2 linked regions of the Homo sapiens genome follow. The protein of the gene in region 1 interacts with the protein of each later gene in a pairwise test. Each region holds a gene or a part of one and is shown in the gene's direction. Other genes may lie near its edges.

Region 1 (5,395 bases):
TCTAAAATTAAGTGAGGAGATGAAGCCCAATCTAGATGGTGTTGATTTATTCAACAATGGTGGTTCTGGAAACGGTGAAACGAAAACTGGGCTGAGACTGAAAGCAATAAATCTGCCTTTGGAAAATGAAGTAACTGAAATTTCAGCTTTGCAGGTGCATTTGGATGAATTCCAAAAAATCTTATGGAAGGAAAGAGAGTAAGTGCTAATCATTGTCTCCCTTAACCAAGTCTAAGTTTCAAATCACTTAAAATTGTTAATACAGATAGATTGGTCATTTGATAATGTATTTTATCCATGTTTAGTCATTAAGTTTTAGGATTTAAAGAAATTAGTTTGATATATATTCATATGTTGAATTTTAAAATGTAGTTTATAACTTGTTAGTGTTTTCCATTCTTTTAAGTTGACTTTTATCATGACTATGTTTTTATCTTCTCTGGTAGATTCACTTTAATTGTATATGAATTCTTAATGTACAAGGTTAAAATATCCAGTGTATTATTTAAGTTTGACAGCATCTTGGACTTGGTCAGTAAAAATGAATAAATATGTTAATATTAATAGTGGAAAAATCACAATTTTGTGAGATATTTATTACAGAAAAAGTAGTCTTATACATGGACCATTAAGGGCATCAGGCTTTTGCTTAATTGGCCTGGATATTCATCTTTGGTCTGATGTCTTCTAGCTATGTGATGTTGGCTGTTGCCCCTTTGTGAAAATAGCTGTAGTGCTGTTATGTTCCAGTTATCTATTATCTTGAAACAAACTTTTCCAAGTAATTATCATTAAAACATATCAACAGCAACCACCCTGTCTTCTGTTCAAGAATCGCGAGCATGGCTTGGCATGGACATTGTATCTCTCACTTGTGCCTTCAGTTGCAAGGGCTCAAAGGCTGGCAATGCATGGAAGGCTGGGGGCTGCAGCCTCTTTCACTCATATCTGGCAGTCCATCTCGGTTTTCATCTATGCCTCAGTTGGGACACCTGCACTGGGGCTATTTAAGGGGGTGCTTGGCTTCCTCACAACATTGGGGCTAGGTTGCAAGTGAACATCTTAAGAACACAGAGAGAAGAAAACGCCATTTGAATGATTCTGCCTCAAAAGTCAGACCCACTTATCGGTGGTGAGAATCTCAAAGTCTGACTCAGATTAAAGAGAGAGAGGCACTTTCAATGGAAGGAGTGTGAAAACAATTTTATAATAAGGGTGTGTGGGATGCAGTCATTGTGGCAACGATCTTTGCAAAATACAGTCTGTCATAGCCTTTCTCAGTGAATTCTCATAAAGATCAAGAACAAATAACATCTGGGAAAGAGAATAGTAATATGAAATGTTCAATATGGATTTTCGTTTCTATGCAATCAGCTTACAATTTTATTAGCACAATGTGGAATATCTAATATATAAATAAGGTTCCAAAATCTAAAAATAATTATTTTTTATCTCTTAGTTATAAAAATCTTAATAGGCAGAACCAGAAAAGCAAGAAGGATATGTATGCATATATACACACAATGTATTATATAAGTATATATTATATAACAGTTTTAATTTTCCTGGCTTGAATGGACTGAAATAGGGATAAATATGCATGCTAGCCATTCACAAATACAGTAAGTTCTTTACCACTTACTTTCTGCCAGAAGTTTCTCATTAGTCCCTCTGAAATTTACTAGTGCCACCAATTCCCTTTTTCAGATTCTTCATCTGTATTTCACTAGATTAGTAGATTGTGATCATACAAGTATCTATGTACAGAATAAATATTTATTACTCTACCAAGTGTAAATTCCTAATAGAGGCAACCAACATTAGTAGAAAACAGAATAAAAATGAATTTAATTTTTAGGCTCGTACACATAGTGACAATTTTATCTAGCCCTATACATTTCAGTCACATTCTAATCTCCGTGGTTTTACTTCTTGAAGCATTTAACTTTTTGGTAATTATAGACTTCTCTCCAGCCCACATACAATATTACTTCCCCAGTGCAGTCTAATAGGAGCAATGCAGAGCTGTGTTTTTCTAGATGTAAACTTCTATTCTAAGGTGTCAGTTTTAAAGATATGCATGTTCTGTCTTAACACGCTTATCCATATACATATACACAACATATACTTTTTACTTTCTTGGAATAAATGAACAATTCTCAGAGTAAGTACATTCTGCAGTTCTCAGTGACTTCAGTCTATAATCCATAGACAGGCCAAAGAATAAGAGAAAAAAGGAAGCTTTCCATGGCTTTGTCTTCCTACTCTCCTCTTTTAAGAAACAATCCCACGGACGTGATGAGTCATGGTTCCTGTGTCCATGAATCAACATTTGCATGCAATCCGCATGAGGCAATCAGTCTTTTTTTCTATCACAAGAGAACATTTTCCAAGAATATAGGATATGCTATTACTTATAAATCCATCTAATCTTTTAAATTCTTCTTCCTGGAATATCAGTGAGTGGGTGGCTTCGACTGAGATGTGAATGTATTTTTTTCTGCATTCCCATCTAGTGGGAAAATTCTCTTCTTGACTAGTGCACAGAAATCAACTCAGAAAACTCAGGGACTCATTTTTTTCCATTGTCCTTGACTAGAACCTCCTCATCAAATAGATGAAACTTTATAGTTTTCTTTGCACTCTGAGTACTGTTCAGTTTTATGAATAATTATCCAGTGTATAAAAGTTTCTCATATACTGAGAATTTATATATTTCTGTTGACTTTCATAAAGACTTCCCAGGTAGAAAATTTGGAGTAAGGCCAGGAAAGCTGATCCTCTTATAGGCCTATGTGTACCTAAACATTTGGGAAGCTGAGGTTTGGCAATACCAAATCTCAAGTAACAGAGACTGAGATAAAATAATTTGAACTGTCCCAAACTTCAGAATCAGTTTTCAAATTTCACTGCAGAGACCTCCTTTATCACTTGTAAAATGTTTGTTCTGTGTCCTTTAAGCTGAGCTTCAGTCCTCCCTTTCCATTTTATCATTTTATCTTTTTTTTCTTTTCTTTACTTTTTGAGACAGTCTCGCTCTGTTGCCCAGGCTGAAGTGCAGTGGTGCAATGTAAGCTCACTGCAATCTCAGCCTCCTGGGCTCAAGCCATCCTCCCACCTCAGCCTCCCAAGTAGCTGGAATTACAGGCTGTGCCACCACGCCTGGCTAATTTTTTATTTTTTTATTTTTAGTAGAGACGGGGTTTTGCCATATTGCCCAGGCTGGTCTCAAACTCCTGGCCTCAAGTGATCTAACCGCCTTGGCTTCCCAAAGTGCTAGGATTACAGGCGTGAGCCACTGCGCCCAGCCCATTTTGTCTTCTTAATTTATTTTCTATGTAAGAAAAGTAGCATGCTTCATTAAATGTTCAATTTTTTTCTTAATGAGATTTAAAATCCAGGTTAGAAGCTTCAGCAAATTAAAAATGCTACAAAGGATATTATTTTTTATATATGTATGAAAGACACAGATTTCTACTTTACATATTTAAGAAATTATATATATAAAGTATATATATATATATTCCTCAATGAATACATTGACATGCAAATCTGGTTAATACTATTTAATGTAATATTTGTAAATATTTGAAAATCAAGCTTATTTTGTTACTTTATTAACTGTCACTCATGGAATATTCAATAAACCTTTACCATTTTTTGACTCTCCAGTGTCTATTTTGTGTTTTGGCAATTCACTGCCAAATGAAACAGAGTCTACACCTGTGCATAGATTATAAAAATGCCAGTAAGTCTCTACCAGGGTTTCCTTTGCAATGAGGGTACAGACACTTGACTTAGGAATAGTGCATCAGAGGTGGCCACCTAGACTTTTAAGCCAAGCCAATACCGCAAGGCAATAGACAGCATCTAGAATCCATACCTAAGCGAGAAGCAGCAGCAATAAAGACAACTTGTTTCCAGAGGCAGCGGTGGCCTCTGGTGCTTAGTGACACCACTCACTGTCCCGTATTGGTGATCTTGAGGTCCCGCTGTGATGTCTCTACCTTAATGGTGGCCGAAATAGTGTGCTTACAGGAAGATTTTGATGGCTTTCTCATCAGTGTTCCTGGCTGCATGTATTCCCCAGAAATATTTTGAGCTATAATGTCAATTTCCGCTCAAATTTGCTAATTTGAATACGTTTGCTTGCCAGACACATATTACCAGGAGAGTGTAGAGGCAACAGACAGAGGAGGTTACAGGCAGTGGGGTCTTCATGGGACCAGTTTTGTGGCATGAGAGTTGGTCTTGGTCCCTGTCCGCTTCATCTGCAAGCCTTGTTCTATAATTCTCCTGGAGATCTGAGCTTAACAATATTCTTTAAACACTTATCTTTTCTAATTAAATTAACTGTATATGGCTTGGCTGTTTGCAACAGCCGAGTGCTAACACCCAGTGCTGAAAGATGTAATTATGAATAGTAGGAAGTGCAGTTGCAAAATGACATGTATGTTGCTTAAAGTATATTTGTAAAAACTTGTATTGTTAACAGTTTAATACTATCTCTAAATTTTGAACTGTTATAAAAATGAATAACTGCATGTTATTACAAGATAATCATTTGATTTGGTAAGAACATTTTTATATTAATACACCTTTTCAGAAAATCATGATTCAATTTTTTTCCAGTGAAATTTCACACAGTTCAACAATGATTAATATTTATTCCTAGATATTAATTTTTAGGACCTTTCATCTATGAGAAATATTTGAGTAATATTCTTGTCTAGAAATTTAAATTTTATTTCCAATTATTGTGGAATTGTGACAGTAAACAAAGTATCAAAAAATGCATAGAAATAAAATCACATCTTTTCATAAAAATAATTTTGGTTCACATTTTCTATTTTAGATTCTACAAATTTTATATACTTTAGCAATATTATTTTTTAAACTTTATATCATCATATTAAAGATACGACATTTTTGCTGAGCTTTGTCTTTTTAATTTCGTTCTCATGAAGAATGTGTACATAAACTATGCAACAATTTAGAGTAAATATTAGGTGTTTTCCTTTGCCTTCTTGTAGCTCAAATACTCTGACAATAATATACATCCCAATTATAAATTGAACTATATTATTCATCAATTTTGAAAATCTCTCTGAAACACAGAATAAAATGATTAGGCTAGAAAATTAAGGATTTATAGAGTGCCCTCTGCTGCATAAATTTAGACATACAATGTCCTTAATGCTGGCAGAGACACAAAAGTTTATGATGGGGCTATCTAAATACTAAAAAAAAATTTAAGTATCCCATTGTCATTAAATAATTTTTAATGAATTGCTTGTTTTCTCACTCCCCTAACCAAATGGTAACCTTTTACATAATAAAAATGCATACTTTTCTTTTAGGAAACAAATACATATCAGATATTTTCTTTATGATG
Region 2 (3,500 bases), on another chromosome or scaffold:
TATGAATATTGCTCTTTTTTTCTTTTCATACAATACAGGTTGGGTGTCCTTAATCCAAAAATCCAAAATCTGATATACTCCAAAATCCAAAACTTTTTGAACACTAATAATAATGTTCAGAAGAAATGTTCACTGGAGCATATAGGATTTTGAATTTTTGGATTAGGGATACCGAACCAGTAATGAAAATATTCCAAAATCTAAAATATCTCTGGTTCCAAACACTTAAGATAAGGGATCCTCAATCTGTATAAGCTCTTAAGTAACAAGGACCACATTGTATATTTCTATTATGTCTTTTCACTCTTCTCCCAAAAGTACACTCTTATCACATATATGCAAATAGTAGAATTTTTTTTTTATGTTTTGAATGAAACGTTGAGACCCAAGACTATAATTGTTTGACCTGCTACACCTTTAGTACCCTTAAAAGTTTCATCATAATGATTTTGTTGCTGGAAGTTAATAAAGCCTGTGTGTGTGTATATTCTTTGCTTTCCCTTTGTTCTTCTTGTATGTAATAGAAGGTAAAGAAGCAAAGAAAGAAGTGGGAAGAAAGCCAAGAAAAATCTTAACATCTTGTGCCATTCCTTTTTCTTATTTTCTGCCTTAATTTGCCAAACTCTTAAGAATCAAGACCCCCTAGGACTCTATTTGGAAAAGAAACAAATGATATTTGGCTCTAGTTTTTATGTAACAATCTTAGTTTTTACTCTTTTGCAGGACAAGATTAAACATTTAGAAGAAAAACTTAAGGAAGAAGAACATCAGCGTAAGCTATTTCAAGACAAAGCTTCTGAGGTAAATATAGCACTATATAATCTATCACAGTAAACCATATATGTTTTATTATATTTTTATTTTCATTAACTGAAGCCTATGTTCTAGATTCTAATTTCTGCTTCCTAAATTGTCTTTTCGTTACAATAATGAAATTCTCAGTCAGCCAGTATGATACATGGATGTATTACCAAGAGGTCTTTTTTAATCTTTTGAAATTCTGACAAATACATATATTCTCAGTTGAAGGAACTCCTAGGATAGATTGTTTTCAGTTTGATTTCTGTACATATATTAAATAATTTATTCTTTTATAAACAGAAAATTATTGTAATTACCAATAGACTTAGTGACCTTCACATGTACAAAAACGGTATCTTGGATTTTCTTTTCTTTTCTTCTCCAAAAAGCATTTTTATATTTATAAACTTAGACCTGATATCTCATTACAGTGTTTTTGCATGTTACAAATCAATGTTATAACCTTTTTTTTAAATATTACAGCTTCAAACTGGACTTGAAATCAGTAAAATTATAATGTCTTCAGTTTCAAATCTAAAGCACTCCAAGGAAAAGAAGAAATCTTCAAAGGTGTGCATATAAAATTTTTTCCCAAACAAAAATACTGCTAATACTTATTTATATAACCTCTTAATCCTTATACCTACCCCTTTCCAAAAAGGATTTGAAGATATAAAATAAAAGACATGCAATAATGCGTGTCAAGTAATGGATGATGGTTTGGGGTATAAGGACAGAAAATTTCATAAGATTCAGGTTAAAAAAAGTAGCAGCAGTCATGTACAAAATTTAGCTCTGAGTTTGCTTGACAACCAAAGCAAAAAGGAACATATAATGGACAGTATAGCTATCTTTGTGAAATAACAGGAAGCACTCCAGTTTTTCTAGAAAGATTAACATTTTTCTAGTTTTAAACTTCTGGAGAAACATATTTTGTGATAGTTTATAAAAGAGGCAGTAAACAACACAGTAGATACTGACAACATAATAAATCCTGAAAGCAGTTTTATGTAATATATAGACAATAAAAAATAAGGTTTTTCTTATAGACCTGTTAAGTCTGTAAAGTCATTTATATAGGGAATTTATTGTTATATGTAATTTCTATGCTTATTTCTTGTGAATTTGCCCAAAAGTAAGGATTGGAGAGTTAGTACTTTATAGACCAATATTTTGTTTAGATGGATTGATGTTTTGAATGTATGCTATTCAAGTAACCCTTCTTAATTATATATAATGGTATGAAAAAAGTTTTTAATCCCTTTTAATCTTATGATTGTGGAATTATGGTTTTGATGGCCATTATTACTATTTATTCAGATATGAATGGAGTGAGTGTTCTCTGTGCCATTTGTTGTGGGGGACAGGAGATGCTATTTGGGAATTCTGGCCACTGCCATATGCTTAGCTTGTGGATAAAATAATGGAGAGAACAGTAAACTTAACTTTGGCTACTCTTTTATTACGTAAATAAAAATTAATGTTCAATACTTGGGCTGTATTTTTCATAATTTTTTCATTTTAAAGAATTTTCAAACTACAATAACGAACAATATTTCCCCAATATGACTTATTTTGGCTCTTTCCTTTCCTAAATATTTGTTTTGTGTCTTATTTGTGCAATGAGATTCACAGCTACAAAGCCAAATAGAAAAATCACTATAAGTAATTTGCCAGTGGAACACATACTGCCCAGTATGTATGTTTTATGGCATCCTTTCTCTGATGGGTTAATGGAACTTTTTTCAGTTTACCTATTTATTATAAAAATAGTGAAGGTACAGGGAGAAGATAAAAGAAATGAAGGAAAGAAAAGGTAACTACTGGAAGAGAAGAGAGTAATTAACAGCAGAATCATTTTATGGAAGTACTTAGTTCAAATCCCAAGTTCACGGGGTATGCAAATAATGATGTCTCTTTTTAAAGATGGAGGGAGTGCTAAAGTTGCTGAAAGTAGGATCAGATTTCAAGAAGCCTCTATGAGAGATCTGCTTCCCATCACACTGTTTCTCCATGTCCTGGACATAGTTCATTCAACTCTTACATCTTGATGTACATAGACTGGTATCTCTAGGTGATAAAAAGATAAGACAGGAATTTGTGAGAAACAGATAAATATATAAGTATAAAACAGTATAATAGAAGATTAATAGAGGTTTAAACAAAGTGTTGTGGTGCTGTGTAGACAAAGGAATATGTGAAAGGTAATTCAAGAGCAATATTAAAGGAAGCCTTGAAGAATTAAATATTGACAGACTGAGATGAGGAAAAATGTGTTATAGTCTGAGGGAATTGTTGGTTTTTCCAGGGACCTATAAGTAATAGTCCAGTAGTGGGGGTGAGATGGGATCATAATGAAAGTTAAAATGGAAAATATAGCTTGGGGTGAGCTAATGGCTGACCTTGAATGCCATGTTAAGAGTTTGAACTTTTATTCTATAAACAGGAACTATTGAAGGCTTCTGAGAAGAGTAGGGACATGATTAGAGTTGTAATTTTAGATGGTAACTGACAGCAGTAGGAGAGTTTTACAAGAGAGAAATCAGATGTGTAGATTTTTGAGAGAATCATATGTGTAGATTCATGTCACCATCACAATAATCAAGATACAGAACTCTTCCACCACTAAAAAACTCCTTCATGCAATCCCTCTATAGCTACACATCCCCTTCCCTGAACATTGGCAACCTCTAATCTGT

Evidence for each region. The genes of interacting proteins can lie anywhere in the genome.
Region 2: the proteins of CCDC102B (region 1) and CEP57L1 interact in binary tests that used the Homo sapiens proteins (3 or more experiments, as listed by UniProt).

What each region holds. Positions count from the first base shown.
Region 1 is NC_000018.10:68,838,729-68,844,123, forward strand, and holds part of CCDC102B (coiled-coil domain-containing protein 102B), read left to right. Parts: coding exon 1-198; intron 199-5,395. UniProt on the Homo sapiens protein: During interphase, forms fibers at the proximal ends of centrioles to maintain centrosome cohesion. During mitosis, dissociates from the centrosome following phosphorylation to allow centrosome separation. Contributes to CROCC/rootletin filament formation.
Region 2 is NC_000006.12:109,154,507-109,158,006, forward strand, and holds part of CEP57L1 (centrosomal protein CEP57L1), read left to right. Parts: intron 1-723; coding exon 724-801; intron 802-1,284; coding exon 1,285-1,371; coding exon of another isoform or gene 1,372-1,383; exon of another isoform or gene 1,384-2,291; intron 2,292-3,500. UniProt on the Homo sapiens protein: Centrosomal protein which may be required for microtubule attachment to centrosomes.